Linked DNA regions of Homo sapiens: regions 1, 2 and 4 are each reported to be linked to region 3. Evidence: microRNA targets listed by miRTarBase, many of them from high-throughput screens and not tested one by one. Region 3 holds a microRNA gene; each other region holds the end of a gene's coding sequence.
What was found. The annotated mature microRNA hsa-miR-4324 reads CCCUGAGACCCUAACCUUAA and lies in region 3 at 2,317-2,336, opposite strand. An mRNA with a match to its seed (bases 2 to 7 or 8) in the 3' UTR can be bound and repressed. Matches are read on the target gene's strand: a 7mer-m8 pairs with bases 2 to 8, a 7mer-A1 pairs with bases 2 to 7 and ends in A, and an 8mer does both.

Region 1 (3,145 bases), not on the chromosome of region 3:
GCTCTTGTTGCCCAGGCTGGAGTGCAATGGCGTGATCTTGGCTCACTGCAACCTCTACTTCCCGGGTTCAAGCGATTCTCCTGCCTCAGCCTCCTGAGCTGCTGGGATTACAGGCACCCGCCACCATGCCAGGTCAATTTTTTGTATTTTTAGTAGAGATGGGGTTTCACTATGTTGGCCAGGCTGGTCTTGAATTCCGGACCTCAGGTGATCCGCCCGCCTCAGCCTCCCGAAGTGCTGGGATTACAGGTGTGAGCCACCACGCCCGAATTCCTCTTGTAGGGATGTATGCATCAGATACACTTGCATAAATATGCACAGAAGTATGTTCAATGATGCTCTCGAAGCAGTATTTGTGGGGGTAAAAACAGGAAGCCACCCAACAATGTAGCCACAAGGAAGGAGGCAGATCCATGTGTACTAGACAGCCTTGGAGCCCTGTGGCATCCATTTGTCATTAAAGGGTAAGATGCAAGGTTCAGAGTAGTGTGCACAACATGATCCCTTTCAGGTTAAAATATAATTAACAGTCAACAAACTTATGGATACCATGAATAAAAGATATCAGTCCAGCTTCTTTAAAAAGTCAATACTGATGACCTCTGGAGACTAGGGATGGGTTCTTTGGGGTGGAAGGAGGATGATGGTTTACTTTTCACCATGTGCACTTGTGTGTGTTTTTAAAAATGTTTTGTAGAGATGAGCTCTCCCTGTATTGCCCAGGCTGGTCTCAAACTCCTGACTTCAAGTGAACCTCCTTGCCTTGACCTCCCAAAGCGCTGGGATTATTACAGGTGTGAGTGACTGCACCAGGCCTTCTGTATGCTTTTTTATCATAAGGATGTCTTCCAAGTGTCCGCCTGTACCCCCCCAAAAAATGGGCAGAGAACTCAAGAGGGCAGTTCTTCGTGGTCAAGTGGATACAATGTTCACCTGCTAACATTACAGTAAAGAACCTCCCTCCTCCCTGGGTACCCAGTGCACCAGCAAGGAGTTCAGCCTTCTGGGGATGATGCAGCACATACATGCAAGTGCAGGGCCCTCCCTGCCTCTTTTGCACACTGACAGCATATCACACATGGCGTTTCACACCATGCTTCTTTGTATTTAATGTCTATCTTGAGGAGCTTCTCAATGGCTATATCTACAGAGTGGGAAAAACTATTTGCAAACCATGTATCTGGTAAAGGGTTACTATCTGTCTCAACTTGGGCTGTTCTAACAAAATACCACAGACTGGGTAGCTTAAACAACAGGCATTTATTTCTCACAGCTCTGGAGGCTGGGAAGTCCAAGATGGTGGCTCCAGCAGATTCAGTGTCTGGTGAGGGGGGCTTCCTGGTTCACAGATGGTAGCTTCTAGCTGTGTCCTCACATGGCAGGAGGGGCAAAAGAGCTCCCTCGGGCATCTTTTATAAGAGCACTAATTCTATGCAAGAGGGCAGAGTCCTCAGGACCTAATCGCTTCCCTAAACTGTTGACCTTAGGGATGAGAGTTCAATATACGAATTTTTGGGGGACACAAACATTCAGGCCACAGCAGTATCCAAACTATATAAGGGACTCAAGTCAACAACAAAGAACAAATGACCCGGTGTATGCAAAAATGCTCAGTATCACCAACCGTTAGGGAAATGCAAATCAAAACCGCAATGAGAGAGATCACCTCATACCTGTTAGGATAGCTGTTATTAAAAAACACAAGATAAAGAATGTTGGCAACAATGTGGAGAAAAGGGAACCCTAGTGAACTGTTGGTGAGAATGGAAATTAGTACAGCCTTTATGGAAAACAGTATGGCGGTTCCTCAAAAAATTAAAAATAGAACCACCATTTGATGCAGCAATCCCACTTCTGGGTATACATATAAAAAAGAGATGAAATCATTATCTTCAAAAGATAGCTATACTCCCATGTTTACTGCAGCATTTCCACAACTGCCAAACTATGAAAACGACCTAAGTGTCTATTGGTGGACGGATTGGTAAGAAAATGTGGCATGTTATTTTTTACAAGGAAAGAAATCCTATCATTTGCAATAACATGGAGGAACCTGGAGAACATTATGTTAATAGAAATAAGCCAGACACAAAACAAATACCACATGATGCCACTTACATGAGGAATCAGCTGCTGAGCACTGGGTGTGGCCTGTCCCCTCCGCGTTGGCACACTGGCGGCTTCCACTCAGTGAGTTAACTTGGTGGGCTGCCCCTGACACAGGCTGGCCCTGCTACCCACATCTGCCTGCTGAAGAGCTCATATGACCCTCACTCTTGAGGGGACGTTAGCATCAAATCTCTCTCTCTGTTAACCCCCACACTGACTCCAGGCCCAAGCACGTCCCACAGCCATCAGGTCCCCACCCAAAGGGATCCCATGGGCTTTGCCCTGCAGACTTGGCCTGACCACTCAGAGGCAGGCGGGGCCATGACACAGACGGTTTATTCAGACCTCTCCACCCGCCACAGTTCCACATCCCAGTTCAGCAGGCCATTCTGTGACAGTTCCTACTGGTGGGTCTGTCTATGACAGCCCCATCCTGAGTTCCAAGTCCATGTCCTGACTGAGTGGTGAGTGTGCTCACTCGGTGCTCAGGAAGACTCTCTTGCGTGCGGTATTGGTGTAAGGGTGCCAGCGCCACTCCACGTCTGCTGTGGCCTCCTGCTCCAGCGTGCCCAGACGGATCATGTACACTGCAGGCAGGGATGGCATCAGCCCCGGCACAGCCAGCCTCCCCTCCCCACCCCAGACACGGGATTCAGCCTCAAACTCACGCTTCAGCTCAAAGCGGGGCCCGACCTCAGTGAGCTCCACGTTGCGGTGGTCTGTCTTCTTATACACATGGTGCCTGGGAGGGAACAGCTGTGGGTCAACGGCAAGCAGCACGAGGTACACAGGGTGGGGATGCTTTCCTGGGGCATGGCCCGTGGACCCACCGGAATGATATGTAGTCGTCCTGGTTTGCGAAGGTGATGACCCGGTGGCTGTCATCTTTGGGCACGGGAAATAGGTATCGGAGGATGTCAGAGACCTGGGGCACAAGGAAAGAGAGGGAAACAGAGTGGCAAATGCCTGGCCTGGCCCGCAGCCCCAGCCTGAAGGCCCCCAGACTCACCCGCTTGCCCAGGCGGGAGGAGAAGCC
Region 2 (3,170 bases), not on the chromosome of region 3:
TTGGCCACCCATCGTCTGGGATGTGAGGAGCCCCTCTGCCTGGCTGCCCAGTCTGGAAAGTGAGGAGCGTCTCTGCCCGGCCGCCATCCCATCTGGGAAGCGAGGAGCGCCTCTTCCCCGCCGCCATCCCATCTAGGAAGTGAGGAGCGTCTCTGCCCGGCCGCCCATCGTCTGAGATGTGGGGAGCACCTCTGCCCCGCCGCCCTGTCTGGGATGTGAGGAGCGCCTCTGCTGGGCCGCAGCCCTGTCTGGGAGGTGGGGAGCGTCTCTGCCCGGCCGCTCCGTCTGAGAAGTGAGGAAACCCTCTGCCTGGCAACCGCCCCGTCTGAGAAGTGAGGAGCCCCTCCGTCCGGCAACCACCCCGTCTGGGAAGTGAGGAGCGTCTCCGCCCAGCAGCCACCCCGTCCGGGAGGGAGGTGGGGGGGGTCAGCCCCCCGCCCGGCCAGCCGCCCCGTCCGGGAGGTGAGGGGCTCCTCTGCCCGGCCGCCCCTACTGGGAAGTGAGGAGCCCCTCTGCCTGGCCAGCCGCCCCGTCCGGGAGGGAGGTGGGGGGATCAGCCCCCCGCCTGGCCAGCCGCCCCATCCGGGAGGTGAGGGGCGCCTCTGCCCGGCCGCCCCTACTGGGAAGTGAGGAGCCCCTCTGCCCGGCCAGCCGCCCCGCCCGGGAGGGAGGTGGGGGGGTCATCCTCCCACCTGGCCAGCTGCCCCATCCGGGAGGGAGGTGGGGGGGTCAGCCCCCCGCCTGGCCAGTCGCCCCGTCCGGGAGGTGAGGGGCGCCTCTGCCCGGCCGCCCCTACTGGAAAGTGAGGAGCCCCTCTGCCCGGCCAGCCGCCCCGTCCGGGAGGGAGGCGGGGGGGGGGGGGGGGGTCGGCCAGCCGCCCGGTCCGGGAGGGAGGTGGGGGGGGTCAGCCCCCCTTCCGGCCGGCCGCCCCGTCCGGGAGGTGAGGGGCGCCTCTGCCCGGCCGCCCCTACTGGGAAGTGAGGACCCCTCTGCCCGGCCAGCCGCCCCGTCCGGGAGGGAGGTGGGGGGGACAGCCCCCCGCCCAGCCAGCCGCCCTATCCAGGAGGTGAGGGGCGCGTCTGCCCGGCCGTCCCTACTGGGAAGTGAGGAGCCCCTCTGCCTGGCCAGCCGCCCCGTCCGGGAGGGTGGTGGGGGGGTCAGCCCCCCGCCCGGCCAGCCGCCCCATCCGGGAGGTGAGGGGCGCTTCTGCCCGGCCGCCCCTACTGGGAAGTGAGGAGCCCCTCTGCCCGGCCACGACCCCGTCTGGGAGGTGTGCCCAGCGGCTCATTGGGGATGGGCCACGATGACAATGGCGGTTTTGTGGAATAGAAAGGCGGGAAGGGTGGGGAAAAAATTGAGAAATCGGATGGTTGCCGGGTCTGTGTGGATAGAAGTAGACATGGGAGACTTTTCATTTTGTTCTGTACTAAGAAAAATTCTTCTGCCTTGGGATCCTGTTGATCTGTGACCTTATCCCCAACCCTGTGCTCTCTGAAACATGTGCTGTGTCCACTCAGGGTTAAATGGATTAAGGGCGGTGCAAGATGTGCTTTGTTAAACAGATGCTTGAAGGCAGCATGCTCGTTAAGAGTCATCACCACTCCCTAATCTTAAGTACCCAGGGACACAAACACTGCGGAAGGCCAAGGCCGCAGGGTCCTCTGCCTAGGAAAACCAGAGACCTTTGTTCACTTGTTTATCTGCTGACCTTCCCTCCACTATTGTCCTATGACCCTGCCAAATCCCCCTCTGCGAGAAACACCCAAGAATGATCAATAAAAAAAAAATAAATTAATTAAAAAAAAAAAAAAAAAAAGAAAACCTATTCAAGATTTCAGGTGCTTTTTTTTTTTTTTTTTTTTTTTTTTTTTGAGATGGAGTCTCGCTCTTGTCCCCCAGGCTGGAGTACAATGGTGCAATCTCAGCTCACTGCAACCTCTGCCTCCCAGGTTCAAGCGATTCTCCTGCCTCAGCCTCCTGAGTAGCTGGGATTACAGGCGCCTGACACCACGCCCGGCTAATTTTTGTATTTTTAGTAGAGATGGGGTTTCACCATGTTGGCCAGGCTGGTCTTGAACTCCTGACCTCAGGTGATCTGCCCGCCTCGGCCTCCCAAAGTGGTGGGATTACAGGCATGAGCCACCGCATCCGGCCAGATTTCAGGTGCTTTTAAAAAGTAACTGAAATTTTATTTTTACTTAATTCCTTTATTTATATATATATATATACCTGAAATTAAGGCAAAAAGCATGATATGAGACCCAAAAAAGCTCATATCCTACTCAACTAAAAGTGTTTAGGACCTAAACAGGGCAAAAGATTTAAATAGCACTAACAGCTCAAGGAATGTATAGGTTAAACCTTTTGTTTTACATCCAGAAAATTAGAAAACTCAGCTAAACATTGTATATATCACAAGGTTTTAAAAATAATTTGTAAGATTTAATCTTACCAAGAAAGCTTACTCATTTAAAGACTTCTTTATACCGGCCCTTCATATCATCAGTGGAAACTGTTTATTAAAAGGGAGGAGTATGGGATACACAAATAGCATAAATCGAAATCTCACACTTAATCCTTTAATGTTAATTGCATTTCAGACTGAGTAAAGTCTGACTAAAAATCACAGCAATGGGACAAAGCACTGCTTTGTTTTAAAACTGCACATGTGCTTTCTCCCCTGAGAACCTTTGGCTTAGACTTTTTGTACAGTAAGACATTTCATTAAATATGGTTAGATTTGCAGTCTAAGACCTTAAGTGACACACTCAATGACAACATTCTTATAAATTATAGCCAATTATAAGTCCTCCTTCTGGTTTCTCTTCTGTGCTTCGTAAATATGTACATCTTTTTCAGGATCGTAGTGAACCTTTCTCACAGTAAATTGCCTCTCCAGCATTGCTAAGAAGTTGTTATCCCGTTCATAGCGAATTCGGCATGCTAAAAGAATCACAGAGTGATTGCTACAGAGATGTTCCAGTGTCTGAAGAAGATCTGTGAATGTTTCTTCTAAATATATGATATCAGCACCAAGTATCAGGTCAAATTCTCCAGGAGAAAAACTCCCCAAATTTTGTCCCCAAGTCAGCTCCTTAACAACAGTTTTAGTTTGGATATGAGGAGGTAAGTTGGCTTGAACGTTTGATTTAAGAAATTCTAATGCTACT
Region 3 (3,159 bases):
ATAGAATATAAAGAAAAACATTAATCACTATCCTTAGTTCTTTGTTTTTTTTTTTTCTTTTTTTTTTTTTTGAGAGAGAGTCTCACTCTGTTGCCCAGGTGGAATGCAGTGGCACAATCTCAGCTCACTGCAGCCTCCACCTCCCAGGTTCAAGCAATTCTCCTGCTTTGGCCTCCTGAGTAGCTGGGACTACAGGTGTGTGCCACCACGCCCGGCTAATTTTTGTATTTGTTAGTAGAGATGGGGTTTCACCATATTGGCCAGGCTGGTCTCAAACTCCTGACCTCGTGATCCATCTGCCTCAGCCTCCCAAAGTGCTGGGATTATAGGCATGAGCCACCGCACCCGGCTTGTTTTTCTTTACATTTGATCATCTATGTATGCGTATCTACTAAGCAATATAGTAACCACTATCCTGACTTTTATGATGGTTACCTCTGGGAGGCAGTAAAGAGATTATGATTAGAAAAAGATACACAGAGAGCATCTAGGGTTATTCTAGTTCTTAATACAGGTGATGTTTACTTCACGGTTCGTTACACAGTGCATTGTTTTATACACTTTTTTTTTTTTTTTGTTAGAGGAAGGGTCTCGCCCAGCTGATTTCAAACTCCTGGGTTCAAGCAATCCTCCCACCTCAGCCTCCCTAAGAGCTGGCATTACAGGCGTGAGCCACTGCTCCCGGCCTTGTTTTATGCATTTTTCCATATGTAGGTAATAGCTCATAATAAAAGGTTTTTTTGAAAATACACAAAAAAACTACCATTACACTCCCACCAGACTGGAAACAATTTAAAAGTCCAACCAAGTTTAATCAAGTGTTGTGCAAAAAGTAGAACAAATGGAAGTCTCACACATCCCTGATGGGAGGGCAATGCATTACGCCACTTTGAAAACCAGACAATATATGATAAAATTGAAGGGGAGCACACCCTACTCAGCAATTCCTTTCCTAACTATATGCTGTCAAGAACTCTTGCACACGCACACATGTATATTCCCAGGCATCTTCTAGAAGAAAATGGTGGTTATTTGTGAGGGTTAGGGTTACTAGGAGAGGTCGGGCGCGGTGGCTCACGCCTGTAATCCCAGCTCTTTGGGAGGCAGAGGCAGGAGGATGGCTTGAGCCCAGGAGTTCAAGACCTGCCTGAGCAATATAGTGGGACCCTGTTCTCAAAAATTTAAATTAAAAAAAAAAAATCTGCTGGGAGAGAGAGGAAGAGGAGGAGGAAGCAAAAAAAAAGAAAAAGAAAAAAAAGAAAAAGAAAAAAAAAAGATTACTGGGAGAAATTCAACTCAGGGTTGCCTCCTCTGGAAGGCCCCATCTGACTAGTCCAGACAGAATTAATGGCTCTGTCTCCTGTCCTCACCCATCACTTCAGTTACCAGTTAGCACAAGTTTTTGGCTGTCTCATTCTCCTTTCCTTCCCCCTCCAAAATTGAAAACTTAATGAAACAAGGACTGTGGTCTGATTCACCTGTCCAAGTCTCTGTTGTATAGAAAGAACACTTCCTAAATGTCTGTCTGATGGATGTTTTTGGAATTAATGCCTAAAAATAAGAAAAATAAGAAACAGGGGTGATCAGACAATCAAGGTTCTAGTACAGAGAATCCTTTTGGAGTTTCTGCTAGATTGACAGAAATCCCCAATTCAGGAGTTAACAGTTAAGAATGGGGGCCTTAGGGCGCGGTGGCTCACGCCTGTAATCGCAGCACTTTGGGAGGCTGAGGCGGGCGGATTATGAGGTCGGGAGATCGAGACCATCCTGGCTAACATGGTGAAACCCTGTCTTTACTAAAAATACAAAAAAATTAGCCGGGCCTGGTGATGGGCACCTGTAGTCCCAGCTACTCAGGAGGCTGAGGCAGGAGAATGGCTTGAACCCAGGAGGCAGAGCTTGCAGTGAGCCAAGTTCGCGCCACTGCACTCCAGCCTGGGTGAAAGAGCGAGACTCCATCTCAAAAAATAAAAATAAAATAAAATAATGGGGGCCTTCTACTTCTCCATTTTTCCAAGGATGGCCTTGGAAGTCTCTGTGTGGTATGGTCTTGGATGGTATTTTGTTGTGTATCTGGGATTAGAGAAGCCTTCAATGTTTGCAATTTTTAGTACATCCCTGTTAGCATATCCACTCTGAGGTGGATAGCTGGCAATCTCTGAGTTTGAAGATTTATTTCTAGGGTGACAAAAGGCTCTGAGAAGGATAATATATGATAGGAGATTCTATTGTCTCCATTTTTAGCTATGGGGAAGGTAGAGGGCTTGCAAGTGCACCCAAGGTTGAAATGTGTGAACATGGGTCTTTGCAGCACCTTTAAGGTTAGGGTCTCAGGGTTTTAAAGTTCCCTGGAGCTGAGACCCTTAACAAAGGGGCCGGCCTTACCTCTCACAGCAGCGATGTGTGATGACTGTCGCCCAGAAGCCCAGGACACAGAAGTTGAAAGATGTGAAAACCAACAAAGTGAGCAGGTTTATCACAGACACGAGAAAGGCATCACTGAGACAGTTGTTGGACTGGGGCATGTAGGAGGCTAAGGAGGCAACGGAGCCAAGGCCTATGCCTGTGTTAGACAAAACTTGACCCCCTGCTAGAGACCACACACTCATATTGTACACATCCGATATCTAAAAGAGAGAAGACAAGCATAAGGGGGTTGTAAAAGAAGAAGCAGAGGACAACTATAATAGAAATGTTGCAGGGAGGAGAGAGGGAGATACAAAAGTAAAGAATGGGGAAAGGAAGCTCTAAGAATAGGCAGCTGTGGTGCCCTACAAGGCCTGACGGGGGAGTGAGGAGATAGATTTCACCTTGGCAACCACCAACTGTTGAAGGCCAAATTTTGCCCCTTCCAGGAGTAGAGTCCGGATGAAGAAACCGACAATGATGAAACAGGGGAGCAGTACCAAGACATAGATTACCTGAATCGAGAGTGGGACATATCAGCAACCGTGTACCAGTAGGGGTCAACCAACAGTTAGGAGGGATCAAAAGTTCTGAGTCAGAAATGAGTAGGAGTTAGAAGAAAGCCTTCAGCAAGAGTCAGGGGCTAGGGGAGTAAAAGCCAAAGGAGTAAGAGATTAGGAGATCAACAAGTAACAAATTGAGGTAAGGGCTAAAGCATCTGAGAATTTCAAGGAATCCAATACTGGTGGCTCA
Region 4 (3,000 bases), not on the chromosome of region 3:
GCATACTCACCTGCACACTGCTGCTGCTCTACTCCTTGGCCCCCACCATGGGTGCAGTTGTCCTCTCCTCCACTCTCCTGTCCTTCTCCACTGCCATTGGCAGGACGTGCATCACGGACCTCCAGCTGACTGTGGGCGGGGCCCAGGCCAGCGGCACCCTTATTGGCGTGGGGCAGTCTGTGACTGCAGTGGGCCGCATCATCGCCCCTCTCCTCTCGGGGGTTGCCCAGGAGGTCAGCCCTTGCGGCCCCCCCAGCCTGGGCGCTGTGTTAGCCTTAGTGGCCATTTTCATAATGTCTCTAAACAAGCGACACTCTAGTGGTGATGGGAATAGTAAATTAAAAAGTGAGTAGATGGATTTGGACAACATAAAGCAACAAAATTTGAGATGGTTGAATGAGGGCCGGAGGCCATGATGAAAAGGGCACTTTGGAAAGGGTTGGGGTGGAAGGGAAATATTTCCGGGTGGGTGTGAGCTGTTGGGCTTCCAGGTCAGCTCTTGGCCATGCAGCCATGCCTGCAGGATGATCAGAAGTCACGGCACCTCATGGGAAGGTTAAGACTGGAGCAAAGCTTTTCCAAGGTGAGCATATTCAGCGTTTACCTGGAAGTCTCTTCTTCCCACCTGGGCTAATCAGGTTACAATTTTCAAGGGTAAACAAACTACCAGCTACAGGATAGGGAAGTGGTGGTGGAATAAGAGAACATGATACCTGGAGGAAGGGAAGAAACCACAAGCATTTTCCTACTGAAAAATAGGGTGACATGTCAGTCAAATTCTGATCAACTGGAACTTGAGTTTCCAGTTAAATTCCATACACTAGGAGGGAGTTTTCTATCAAAATCCTGCAGATTGAAGAAGCTGGTTTATTAGAACCAGCCTGTCGCTTTTCAAAGCTGCTTAAAAATAAGATACTGACCTCACCCCTAGAGATGATTCAGTGGGCCTGGGTGGGGCCAAGAAATCCGTGGTGTTTTGTAAGCACTGCTGGCGATTTCTCATGGCAGTAAAGACCACACTGAGACTGCACTGATTTTGATTAAAGTACATAGGCTTGGCTGTTTTTACACAGCTAACTAAATTTGGACTCTTAAAATTGTGTTTGTAATCACAGTGTGTTACACCTTTCCCAGCTCTCAGCAGTTGTACTGCATGATGGAGCAGCGGGCCCCTGGGACCTGTTCCCTGTGCTCCCTGCCTCTGAGAGCCCAGCTTGCTCTGAAGTTGGACTAAACCACTTAGATGCTGGGGTTGCCACAGCCTGCTCCTGGAAGCCTGCATTCCAGTCAGGTTGCATCCTTCTGGTGCTGACAGAACCCAGTGGTGAAGCCAAAGCACAGGAATGCTTTAAAAATGAACAGTTTATGCAGAATAAGGGTCAGGAGTCATGCCAGACCAGAACTTGATGCTACTGTGTCTTGTGTTAAGAATCATTTCCTGGCCAGGCTCGGTGGCTCAGGCCTGTAATCCCAGCACTTTGGGAGGCTGAGGCAGGTGAATCACTTGGTCAGGAGATGGAGACCATTCTGGCTAACATGGTGAAACCCCGTCTCTACTAAAAATACAAAAAAAAAATTAGCCGGGCGTGATGGCGGGCGCCTGCAGTCCCAGCTATTCGGGAGGCTGAGGTAGAATGGCGTGAACCTGGGAGGCGGAGCTTGCGGTGAGCCAAGATTGTGCCACTGCTCTCCAGCCTGGGCGACAGAGTGAGACTCCGTCTCAAAAAAAAAAGAATCATTTCCTTTATTTTTAGTTTCACGCCTGCAAACACAAGCATTCTGTTGATCAACGGAAATATTTTGATGTGCCATTTCTTGTCTAAACAAGTTTCATATACAGCACCGAGGGGGCCACGAGAGGCAGAGGCCCAGACAGAAGGTGAACATAGCCTTGCAGGGAGACATATGCCAGGCAGGATGACCATTGGGATTGCATCAAGTATTAATCAGTTACTTAAGGGCTTCCTGTCAGACAGTTGAAGTTCACATTCCTTTTACTTTTCTTAATTAGTCCACTAGGATGGTATGCCTGTTTTCAACTTAACACATGCATACTTGTAAATATTTTAGTATGCTACAGTAATTTGTCATATCTTTAATATTTATTGTTTGTAAAGCAGTAAACATTTCTGTATTTTAGAAGTCATGGAGTAAAATCAAATATTTATGATAAATAATTGGAAGTATGTTTTAGTTTGAAGATTGTCCTTTTTCCTATCTTGCTGCAAGGAAAAATGGACTTCTGATTAGGTTTTACAATTGTGAACTTTTATGTAAATGTTAAGTGCTTTCGAGGAGACCAAACTATTATTAATATATAAAATGGCCTTGCCCTTAAGGAGCAAATTAAATCTCATGGAGATTAGACTCAAAAGGCAATAAATAATCGAGGGTTTATGCAATGAAATAGAATTTCAGAAGAGTTTGGATCTCAAAGATTGTCCTTCACTCTCAGAAACAGGCAAGTTTCTTAAAAGCCCTTATAGTCGTGTTTTTATTTTAAAAATCGTAGCACTTTATTTTTGAAGTTTAAAAAGCCCATAAACTTAATGAGTCTTTATAATCAGACACATGGAAATATAGAAAACCAAAGACTGATCTTAGAATATAGAGTAGAGAGACATGTTTGTTATTCTCCACTAGTGACTTTAGTATTTTGTTATGTGATGTTTTTTAGGTGCACCTTTTCTCATGACTCCTTTTACTTTATCTAATGTCTTCCTCTTTAAAGTGTGACCCAGAGACCAGTAGCATCAGCATCACCTGAGACCTGTGAACACTGAAGCTCCAGCTCAGACATGTTGGGGACCATTTTAATAAGATACCTAGCTGATTTTTTGCACAGCAAACTTTGAAAACCCCTGGTCTAAGGGGTAGTATTTGTATCACTTATGGAATATAATCTCAGGGAAATTAAATCTGCTCAATTGACATTTGTGGTGTTTCATTTTTTAAATTCTCTTGAGTAACTTCTGTAGCCCTTTCCAGTGTGTCAGGTTG

Region 1: the mRNA of IMP4 is a reported target of hsa-miR-4324. Seed matches in the 3' UTR shown: 7mer-A1 at 2,541-2,547.
Region 2: miRTarBase lists METTL21A as a target of hsa-miR-4324. Seed matches in the 3' UTR shown: 7mer-m8 at 2,680-2,686.
Region 4: miRTarBase lists SLC67A2 as a target of hsa-miR-4324. Seed matches in the 3' UTR shown: 7mer-m8 at 2,903-2,909.

What each region holds. Positions count from the first base shown.
Region 1 is chr2:130,345,907-130,349,051 of GRCh38, reverse strand. It overlaps IMP4 (IMP U3 small nucleolar ribonucleoprotein 4), which reads right to left. Exons shown (of 9, transcript NM_033416.3): 6 at 3,119-3,145; 7 at 2,940-3,034; 8 at 2,778-2,851; 9 at 1,085-2,696. The coding sequence ends at 2,584. Among named protein-coding and RNA genes, the nearest start is that of IMP4, 4.6 kb to the right of the region's middle.
Region 2 is chr2:207,610,246-207,613,415 of GRCh38, forward strand. METTL21A (methyltransferase 21A, HSPA lysine) reads right to left here. Exons shown (of 4, transcript NM_001127395.5): 4 at 2,494-3,170. The coding sequence ends at 2,801. Among named protein-coding and RNA genes, the nearest start is that of METTL21A, 14 kb to the right of the region's middle.
Region 3 is chr19:49,306,491-49,309,649 of GRCh38, forward strand. It overlaps MIR4324 (microRNA 4324), which reads right to left and starts at 2,378; the gene lies at 2,307-2,378. SLC6A16 (solute carrier family 6 member 16) reads right to left here. Exons shown (of 12, transcript NM_014037.3): 6 at 2,811-2,921; 7 at 2,386-2,627.
Region 4 is chr2:102,715,773-102,718,772 of GRCh38, reverse strand. It overlaps SLC67A2 (solute carrier family 67 member 2), which reads left to right. Exons shown (of 6, transcript NM_032718.5): 6 at 1-3,000. The coding sequence ends at 353. Among named protein-coding and RNA genes, the nearest start is that of SLC67A2, 20 kb to the left of the region's middle.